3 linked regions of the Homo sapiens genome follow. The protein of the gene in region 3 purifies or fractionates together with the protein of the main gene of each other region. This does not show direct contact. Each region holds a gene or a part of one and is shown on either strand. Other genes may lie near its edges. The genes, in order: CREB3L2, PLOD1 and PABIR2.

What was found.
Region 1: the proteins of PABIR2 (region 3) and CREB3L2 purify together in Homo sapiens (co-immunoprecipitation; one large-scale study listed by IntAct). This does not show direct contact.
Region 2: the proteins of PABIR2 (region 3) and PLOD1 purify together in Homo sapiens (affinity purification with mass spectrometry; 2 studies listed by BioGRID and IntAct, with this or other methods). This does not show direct contact.

Annotation. Positions count from the first base shown.
Region 1 is NC_000007.14:137,901,074-137,904,728, reverse strand, and holds part of CREB3L2 (cyclic AMP-responsive element-binding protein 3-like protein 2), read left to right. Parts: intron 1-711; coding exon 712-770; intron 771-3,306; coding exon 3,307-3,375; intron 3,376-3,655. UniProt on the Homo sapiens protein: Transcription factor involved in unfolded protein response (UPR).
Region 2 is NC_000001.11:11,972,579-11,976,054, forward strand, and holds the end of PLOD1 (procollagen-lysine,2-oxoglutarate 5-dioxygenase 1 isoform 2 precursor), read left to right. Parts: intron 1-293; coding exon 294-419; intron 420-2,074; coding exon 2,075-2,230; 3' UTR 2,231-2,959; downstream 2,960-3,476. UniProt on the Homo sapiens protein: Part of a complex composed of PLOD1, P3H3 and P3H4 that catalyzes hydroxylation of lysine residues in collagen alpha chains and is required for normal assembly and cross-linkling of collagen fibrils.
Region 3 is NC_000023.11:134,787,114-134,790,768, reverse strand, and holds part of PABIR2 (PABIR family member 2), read left to right. Parts: intron 1-1,132; coding exon 1,133-1,189; intron 1,190-1,502; coding exon 1,503-1,546; intron 1,547-1,629; coding exon 1,630-1,684; intron 1,685-1,937; coding exon 1,938-2,039; intron 2,040-3,235; coding exon 3,236-3,297; intron 3,298-3,655.

The sequences.
Region 1 (3,655 bases), on a different chromosome or scaffold from region 3:
CATCTGGAACCACAGACGTGTGCCACCATGCCCGGCTAATTTTTTTGTTTTTTGTTTTTTGTTTTGAGATGGAGTCTCTCTCTGTCACCTAGGCTGGAGTGCAGTGGCACAATGTCAGCTCACTGCAACCTCTGCCTCCCGGACTCAAGCGATTCTCTTGCCTCAGCCTCCCAATTAGCTGGGATTACAAGCATGCACCACCGCGCCCAGCTAATTTTTGTATTTTTAGTAGACGGGGTTTTACCATGTTGCCCAGGCTGGTCTTGAACTCCTGACCTCAGGTGATCTACCCGCCTTGGCCTCCCAAAGTGCTGGGATTACAGGCTAGAGCCACTGCGCCTGCCATTTTTTTGTATTTTTAATGGAGACAGGGTTTCACCATGTTGGCCAGGCTGGTCTCGAACTCCTGACCTCAAGTGATCCGCCCACCTCAGCCTCCCAAAGTGTTGGGATTACAGGTGTAAGCCACTGCTCCTGGCCACTCAGTGTCCATTTTACTGGTGGCCTGGTTTGTAGGAAAGTAGGTGTGAGTTTGGCAGCTAGAAACCCGGGAGGACAGACTAGTCAATGAACCAGCAGCTTAAACAAATGGCAAGCAGCTTGCAGAAGTAAGCAGGGCTTTGGTGACTTCTACGCTAACCACCTCCCATCTTAACTGGTTTACTTACAGAGCTGGAAATTAATCATTCTCCTCCCACTCCTCTCTCTCAGATTTCTGCTCAGGAAAGTAGGAGAAAGAAGAAAGAATACATGGACAGCCTGGAGAAAAAGTAAGCCTGCTGGCAAACTGTTGCGTTCATCGGGCAGTATGCACAGGGAAATATGGGTGTGCGGAGAATCGGGGAGAAGCAGTTCAATTCCTCTTTCTGGCCACCTTGGAAACCCGGTGGTTTATCAGCTGTGGTTTGCCTGCCACCTAGTGGTTATTTGGAGGAGACGTCTATAATAAAGCAAGAAAGAAGTGAAAGTACCTTAGTAGGTGTTTGAATCATACCACTGCCAGCCAAGGACCCCGGAGTCCTCACAGACTTCTTTTCAAACACATACAAATATTAACATTCCTGCACATTCCTGGAACTTCTAGCAGGAGAAGCCCTGTTTTAGCTGAAAGGAGCAGTGCTACTTAATCAGCCCCCATTGGCCACACTCCTTCATGCTCTAGAGAGGGCACATAGGGAAAGAAAGATGTCAGGTTGGCAGCCTTTATTTTCCAGCCACTACAATTCATGTTTTTTTTTTTTTGCAAAAACACTTGAAGGCAATCTTTGTTCTTTTGAAAAGTCTGTAATATCAGGCGGGCTGTTAGAAAAAGATGAATTAAATACAGTTTTGTCTTAGCCCTGGAAGTTAGTTCTTTAGCTAACAAACCAAGATATTTTTAAGATGGGCATGAGGCCCCAGACCCAGAAATGAACTTCATGTGGATCTGGGGAAAGGAGTGGCTGGTGGTTCCTGGCTGTTTCTCAAAGCTACTATTGAAAGTTTAGTGCTTCTATCACCTGACTTAAGTACTGGTAATGCAGCATTAAGTATAGTTGGCTCTCCATATCTGGGGGTTCAGCGTCCTCAGATTCAACCAACCATGGGTCTAAAATATTCAGAAAAAAACTTCAATAGGCTGGGTGTGATGGCTCACTCTTATAATCCCCGTGCTTTGGGAGGCCAAGGTGAGAGGATTGCTTGAGCTCAGGAGTTCAAGACCAGCCTGGGCAACATAGCCAGACCCCCTAAAAAATAAAAAAAAATTAGCCAGGCATGGTGGTGCACATCTGTGGTCCCAGCTACTCAGGAGGCTGAGAGGGGAGAATCACTTGAGCCCAGGAAGTTGAGGCTGCAGTGAGCTGTGATTGTGCCACTGCACTATAGCCTTGATGATAGAGTGAGACTCTGTCTCAAAAAACCAAAGCCAAAACCAAACAACTCAATAAAAAAAAACTACAACAATAAAAAATAATACAACTATAAATACAAGATAACACATATTTACATAGTATTTACATTGTGTTTGGTATTATAAATAACCTAGAGATGATTAACATATACTGGAGGATATGTAAAGGTTATATACAAATACTACACCATTTTTTAATCAGGGACTCGAGCATCTGGAGATTTTGGTATCTGTGGGGAGTTCTGGAACTAATCCCCCCTGAATACCGTGGGAAGACTGTAGTCCCATGCTGTCCCACCATTTTCTATGGGCATCCAGGGTCAAGATGTTCCTATGAAAGTCTCTTTACTGTCTCTTTTGGGCATGCGTGCCCCAGCACCAGGATTCCTAGTCCTGGGCTCTCGTCCTGCCCTTTGCTTAAGTCTCTTCACTTCTTATCAGTCCTGGTAAGAGTGTAGCTGGGAGTATCCAGATTACTGTAGTATAGAGGGAGAAGTATGATGGGCATTGAGAACACTAGGGAGGAGGTGAGAGGAAAGAGGTTGTAACACCCTAAAAGAGGGTCATATTTTGTACTGTCACTATTCATCTTTCATTATTCAGGCACTCATCACTCAGCTCCCTCTTTTTTTTTTTTTTTTTTGGAGACAGAGTCTCGCTCTGTGGCCCAGGCTGGAGTGCTGTGGCATGATCTTGGCTCACTGCAACCTCTGCCTCCCAGGTTCAAGTGACTCTTCTGTCTCAGCCTCCCAAGTAGCTCGGATTACAGGCACACACCACCATGCTCAGCTAATTTTTGCATTTTTAGTAGAGATGGGGTTTCACCATGTTGGCCAGGCTATTCTTGAGCTCCTGACCTCAAGTGATCTGCCTGCCTCAGCCTCCCAAATTACTGGGATTATAGACATGAGCCACTACGCCCGGCCCCAGCTCCTTCTATTTTTCTTTTTTTTTTTTTTTTTTGAGACAGATCTTGCTCTGTCACAAGGCTGGGGTGCAGTGGCGATCTTGGCTCACTGCAACATCTGACTCCTGGGTTCAAGCGATTCTCCTGCCTCAGCCTCCCGAGTAGCTGGGATTACAGGCACGTGCCACCACGCCCAGCTAATTTTTGTATTTTTAGTAGAGACAGGGTTTCACCATGTCGGCCAGGATGGTCTCTATCTCCTGACCTTGTGATCCGCCTGCTTCGGCCTCCCAAAGTGCTGGGATTACAGGCGTGAGCCACCGTGCCCGGCCTATTTTTTTTTTTTTCTTAAGTCTCTTCATCCTTCTTTCAATACTTTCCCACACTTCCATGGGGTGGCAGATCCCCCCAACCCTCCTTTTCCTCATCCCCACCTACCTCCACCCTAGCTCCTAGCTTAGTGTTTGCTCTATGGATAATAATTTTCTTCTTTCTCCCTCCTTTGTAGAGTGGAGTCTTGTTCAACTGAGAACTTGGAGCTTCGGAAGAAGGTAGAGGTTCTAGAGAACACTAATAGGTAAGTGTCACTGGACTGAGAGCTGATTGCGCTACCAATGGAAGATGGGGAAGGAAGAGGATAGAATCCAGAACCAGGGATGGCAGAAAAGTGGAGGAGGTCACAGTGAAAGTGCAGTTGTGCTGAGATGCTCAGCATGGCCAAACTCCACCCACCCACTCCTGCTACACACACACGCATGCACACGTGCTACTCTTGCACATATACAAACACATATGCACACATGCTCTCATGTTCACATCCACAATACACATATGTACACACTCTCATATGCACATAC
Region 2 (3,476 bases), on a different chromosome or scaffold from region 3:
TTTCATTTCTTCTCTTCCCTTTTCCTCCCTTCCTCCCTCCCTCCCTTCCTTTCTTCCTTCCCCTCTGTTCTCTTCCTTCCCTCCCTCTCTCCCCTCTGTCCATACATTTTTGTTGAGAACCTTTTCTGTGCCAGGTAGTTGCAGGCACTCGAGCATAGAGCCCCATGTAGACCTGGCCCCTGTAAGCTGACCTGCAGCAGGCCAGACCAGGCCCCATGTGTGCACCCTCCTCTCCTGGCCTTTGTGTCCTCCTTAACTAACACGGGCTCTCTTGTCCCCCTGCCTTGGTACAGGCCCAGTTTGACCTGGCCTTTGTCGTCCGCTACAAGCCTGATGAGCAGCCCTCACTGATGCCACACCATGATGCCTCCACCTTCACCATCAACATCGCCCTGAACCGAGTCGGGGTGGATTACGAGGTGAGCAGGAGCCAGCCGGGGTCAAGGGGCCGGCAATGGGGATGAGGAGGGCTAGCTGAGGAGAGGCTTCAGGGTGGTTGAGGCAGAGGGGCCCCAGGTAACCAGTGCCAGAGAACCAGAAAAAAAAGGATGTGGGTCTGTGGGAGGGCTTCCTGGAAGGGTTCACAGTCTAGCAGGAGGAGGGGCCAGGCTCTTAAGCTACTATTTTAAGAGATTTTTGGGCTCGGCATGGTGGCTGATGCCTGCAATCCCAGCAGTTTGGGAGGCCAAGGCAGGCAGATCACTTGGGGCCAGGAGTTTGAGACCAGCCTGGCCAACATGGCGAAACCCCATTTCCACTAAAAATAGAAAAATTAGCTGGGCGTGGTAGCACACACCTGTAATCTTAGCTACCCAGAAGGCTGAGGCATGAGAATCTCTTGAACCCAAGAGGTGGAGGTTGCAGTGAGCTGAGATCATGCCACTGCACTCCAGCCTGGGCAACAGAGCGAGACTCTGTCTCCAAAAAAAACAAAAAGAGGTTTTTTGAACTTAGCCCTGGGCTGGGTGCTGTGGAGAACACTCATAAAAACAGCTATAATCCTTTTTTTTTTCTTTTTCGAGACAGGGTCTTGCTCTGTCACCCAGGCTGGAGTGTAGTGGCATGATCACAGTTCACTGCAGCCTCAACCTCCTGGGCCCAAGCAATCCTCCCACCTCAGCCCCCCCAAGTAGTTGGGACCACAGGCGTGTGCCACCATGGCCAGCTAATTTTTTTTCTTGCTTTTAGAGATGGGGTTTCACTATGTTGCCCAGGCTGGAGCTATAATTTTTTGAGAGCTTACAACAAACATATCAGGCATCCCTAATCCAAGGATTCTCAACCAGGAGCAACTGTGGCCTGCAAGGGACATTGGCAGTACCTGGAGACATAATTGGTTTTTACAACTATGAGGGGCTACTGGCATCTAGTGGGTAGAAGTCAGAGATGCCCGGGACAGCCTTCCACAGCAAAGTGTCTATAGTGGTGAGGTTGGGAAGCTTGATCCTCAGCTCTCAATTGTAACATCTCATTTAATTCTCACTATCCTGTTCTGTTTAACCCTCATTTTACAGAAGGGGAAACTGAAGCTCAGGTTGGTCACAGTTAGTAAAGAGTGGAGGTGATGTCTGCCCAGGGCTGCCTGACTCCAAGGACAGAGCTCTTGATCACTTACTCTTTGGGTTTTTTTTTTTTTGAGACAGTCTCATTCTGTTGCCCAGGCTGGAGTACAGTGGCGCGATCTCGGCTCACTGCCTCCTGGGTTCAAGTGATTCTGTCTCAGCTTCCCGAATAGCTGGGATTACAGGCGTGCGCTGCTACACCCAGCTGGTTTTTGTATTTTTAGTAGAGATGGGGTCTCACCATGTTGGCCATGCTGGTCTTGAACTCCTGACCTCAGGTGGTCCACCCGCCTTGGCCTGCCAAAGTGCTGGGATTACAGGCGTGAGCCACCACTCCTGGCCACTACTCTTCATTTAGTGTCTTCCTTAGCAGCGCTTGTGGCTGTCACTCCAGAAGGCATCCCCAGGCAGGCAGTGCTGAGGGCCACTTGGCCATGACAGGAGATCATGACGGGAGAACAGACGGGCAGGGGGGCGGTGGGGAAAGGCCACTGATGCTTTCTGTCTCCCAGGGCGGGGGCTGTCGGTTCCTGCGCTACAACTGTTCCATCCGAGCCCCAAGGAAGGGCTGGACCCTCATGCACCCTGGACGACTCACGCATTACCATGAGGGGCTCCCCACCACCAGGGGCACCCGCTACATCGCAGTCTCCTTCGTCGATCCCTAATTGGCCAGGCCTGACCCTCTTGGACCTTTCTTCTTTGCCGACAACCACTGCCCAGCAGCCTCTGGGACCTCGGGGTCCCAGGGAACCCAGTCCAGCCTCCTGGCTGTTGACTTCCCATTGCTCTTGGAGCCACCAATCAAAGAGATTCAAAGAGATTCCTGCAGGCCAGAGGCGGAACACACCTTTATGGCTGGGGCTCTCCGTGGTGTTCTGGACCCAGCCCCTGGAGACACCATTCACTTTTACTGCTTTGTAGTGACTCGTGCTCTCCAACCTGTCTTCCTGAAAAACCAAGGCCCCCTTCCCCCACCTCTTCCATGGGGTGAGACTTGAGCAGAACAGGGGCTTCCCCAAGTTGCCCAGAAAGACTGTCTGGGTGAGAAGCCATGGCCAGAGCTTCTCCCAGGCACAGGTGTTGCACCAGGGACTTCTGCTTCAAGTTTTGGGGTAAAGACACCTGGATCAGACTCCAAGGGCTGCCCTGAGTCTGGGACTTCTGCCTCCATGGCTGGTCATGAGAGCAAACCGTAGTCCCCTGGAGACAGCGACTCCAGAGAACCTCTTGGGAGACAGAAGAGGCATCTGTGCACAGCTCGATCTTCTACTTGCCTGTGGGGAGGGGAGTGACAGGTCCACACACCACACTGGGTCACCCTGTCCTGGATGCCTCTGAAGAGAGGGACAGACCGTCAGAAACTGGAGAGTTTCTATTAAAGGTCATTTAAACCACTGAAGGGAAGATGCTCAGGGCGAGTGGGTGTGTGTGTGTCTTGGTGTGAGTGTCTGCAGGGAGAGAGGTTTTAAGAGCCCTCTTTTTTTTTTTTTTTCTTTTTTTGAGACAGAGTCTCACTCTGTCTTCCAGGCTGGAGTGCAATGACGCTATCCCCGCTTTCTGCAACCCCCGCCTCCTGGGTTCAAGTAATTCTCCTGCCTCAGCCTTCCGAGCAGCTGGGGCTACAGGCACCCATCACCACGCCTGGCTAATTTTTGTTTTTTTATTAAAGAAAGGGTTTCACCAGGTTGGTCTGGCTGGTCTTGAACTCCTGACCTCAGATGATCCACCCACCTCGGCCTCCCAAAGTGCTGGGATTACAGGCATGAGCCACCGTGCCCGGCCAAGAGCCCTCTTTTTAGAGCCTTTAAGAAAGGTCATGCTAGCCTCTCGACCCCTGAGTAGCTGGGATTATAGGTATCCATGCCTGACACATTTTTGTATTTTTTGTAGAAACGGGGTTTCATTTCACCG
Region 3 (3,655 bases):
AACCCCGTCTCTACTAAAATACATTTATCTTATACTCCAGTCTCCCTTAATGGTTGTAAAAATTCGCTGGGCATGGTGGTGTGTGCCTGTAGTCCCAGCTACTCAGGAGGCTGAGGCAGGGGAATCACTTGAACCTGGGAGGCGGAAGTTGCAGTGAGCAGAGATCATGCCATTGCATTCCAGCCTGGGCAACAAGAGCGAAACTCTGTCTCAAAAAAAAATAAAAAGAAACTTAGAGCATTTTATCACTATTTTATACTGCTCACTACATTAGTATTCAAATAAGTTTTAATAGTGTAGGGCCTCTTAAACAGGATAATTGTTATTTGGTTTTATAGTATTACAAGTTCACTTGCATTTCGTTATAGAATAAATAGTAGTCGTTTATATTATGACCACTAGAACTCTCTAAGACCTGTTGATATGAATTGTGTCTTACAGTTTGTGACCAGCTTGTAATTATTGTGAAGGAACATAATTTGGCCTCCAAATCATTTCTGCTTTGTGTTATTAAAAAATGATGATCTAAGGGAAAGCATCAGTTATTTTAAAGATACACCTTGTCTTTCCAAATTGTTTTTTGTTAACTAGTAAGATTTGTAGTGATAGCATATGATGAGATTTTAGAATGGATTTGGATCGTGAAAGCAAAACCTCCTTATTGCAGTTTTAAAGTGTTTTTGAAAATCATCAATCATAGACAAAATATTATATACTAGACTTATTAGCCTGTCTTCCCCCATTGCTGCATTGATAATAAAAATTAATAACATTGGTGTTTTTTTTTCTTTCCCTTCTCATATTGTTCTTTATTTTAGATAAGTGGGATAATGGATATTTCTAAGGCCCATAGTCTTTATTTCTCTAAATTTACGTAGCTTCACATTCATTTGGGAAAAGTGCTGAAGTCAGTGTCTGTCTAGCAACAGATGGCGCTTTGAGGTTGGACACCTGGTGTACTTTTTGAAGACTAAATGTACTGCCTTTAGTGCATTAACGTTCAGTGATCTAAAGAGCTAAATTTTGAAGAAGAATATGAAAACTTACCTAGGAAGAGGTTGTACGCCAGTACTGACAGCAGACTGCTGCTTTGTGATTCAGAAAATAGTAAATGTTTACTTTTTCTTTCCAGTTGCTGTCATCCTCACCTAATCGTATTCCTAGTAGCAGACTGCATCAGATCAAAAGGGTAAATTTTACTTACTAGCTCAGATTGGAAATTTTTTGGATTTTACATTTTTATTTTAAAGACGTAGATATTAAAATGAATTAGGATGCAACTCTGGTTAGTTGGAGACAGATTATAATTCTTCTGGAGCGTGTAGATAAAATATACAAGCGGCATGAATGTTCCACTCTACTGTGATTATGTCAATGAGGTAGAAAAAGTCTTTTTATTTTATTTGAAGCAGAGAACTATGTGGATAAAAATTGCAGTGTGTGGAAGAGTTAATATTTTGTCAGTGATCCTGCCTTTTTAGCATATATGTTTGTCTTTGCAGGAAGAAGGCCTGGATATGGTGAACAGAGAAACTGCACATGAAAGGTTAGTGCTTTGCAAGAGCAGGGCCTAGCCTAATAAGTGTCTTGTTTGTAAACACTGACGGCCCTTCCCTTTGTTTATTTTAGGGAAATGCAAACGGCAATGCAGATAAGCCAATCATGGGATGAGAGCTTGAGCCTGGTAAAGTTTGCTCATGTCTGTTTGGTTTTCATTTTCTAGAAACTTTTATGTTGTTCACTAGGTTCATTAATTTTTTCGCACACTTCTTTCCCCTTCTACTTCCAAATTGATACTTGTTTTTTGATCTCTGCTTTTCCAGCAGAATATTAGAGTCTATACCTTTCTCCTTGGAAAATCTGGGTGTGTTATAGTAGTAAGTAAGAGCTGTGATGTGCTGAATTTATTATGAGGAGATGACACTTTATGTTTACAGAGTGACAGTGATTTTGACAAGCCGGAGAAATTATATTCTCCTAAGAGAATTGACTTCACTCCAGTTTCTCCAGCACCTTCACCCACCAGGGGATTCGGAAAGGTAGGATAACTGACAAGATATTAAGTGTATTTCACAAACTGAGCTGTTTACTCTAAAACACACACAAATCACCCCACTTTTAAAGTATCCAATGCCTTGAAGGAAAATCAATGAAAATCTACAGCAGTAATTTGGAAAATATACATATATATATGTATATTCTTGGTCTTCTTAAAATATATATATATATAACATATATATTACATATATATAACATATTACATATATAACGTATATATTACATATATAACGTATATATAACACATATATAACATATATAACACATATATAACGTGTATATATTACACATATATAACGTGTATATATTACACATATATAACGTGTATATATTACACATATATAACGTGTATATATTACACATATATAACGTGTATATATTACACATATATAACGTGTATATATTACACATATATAACGTGTATATATTACACATATATAACGTGTATATATTACACATATATAACGTGTATATATTACACATATATAACGTGTATATATTACACATATATAACGTGTATATATTACACATATATAACGTGTATATATTACACATATATAACGTATATATTACACATATATAACGTGTATATATTACACATATATAACGTGTATATATTACACATATAACGTGTATATTACATATATATAACGTGTATATTACATATATATTACATATATATATATGTAATTTAGTTATGAGACACACAGACAGCCAAGCAATTCTAAAGATATTGTTTCTGTCATTTTGAAAAGAACCTTTTGAAAATGATTGTGGGCCTGGTATGGTGGCTTATACCTGTAATCATTCCAACTCTTTGGGAGGCCAAGGTGGGAGGATCACTTGAGCTCAGGAGGTCGAGAGCAGCCTGGGCAACATGGCGAGACCCCATCTCTACATTAAAAAAAAAAAAATAGATACAAAAAAATTAGTCGGGCATGGTGGCGCACACCTGTAGTCCTAGCTCATCAAGAAGGTGGGGCAGGAAGATGGCTTGAGCCCAAGAGTTCGAGGCTGCAGTAAGCTATGATCGCATCACTGCACTCCAGCTTGAGCAAAAGAGAGACCCTGTCTCTAAAAAAAAAAAAAAAAAAAAAAAAGAAAGAAAACTGGAGTGCTAGAACTATTTTAATATTGAATATGTTTTTTCTAGTAATGTTTTTCACCCTTCTTACAGATGTTCGTGAGCAGCAGTGGATTGCCACCAAGTCCAGTTCCCAGTCCAAGACGATTTTCAAGGTAAGCAAACTTGAATTTTAAATGTGGTTGAAGTACCATTCATTACATTTATCTCTCAGATTAGCTTTTTGTGGCTGGGCGCAGTGGCTCACACCTGTAATCCTAGCACTTTGGAAGGCCGAGGCTGGTGGATTACCTGAGGTCAAGAGTTCAAGACCAGCTTGGCCAACATGGTGAAACCTCGTCTCTACTAAAAATAGAAAAATTAGCTGGGCCTGGTGGCAGGCGCCTGTAATCCCAGTTACTCGGGAGGCTGAGGCAGGAGAATCGCTTGAACCAAGCAGGCGGAGGTTGCAGTGAGCTGAGATCGCACCATTATACTCCAGCCTGGGCAACAGAGCAAAAACTCTGTCTCAAA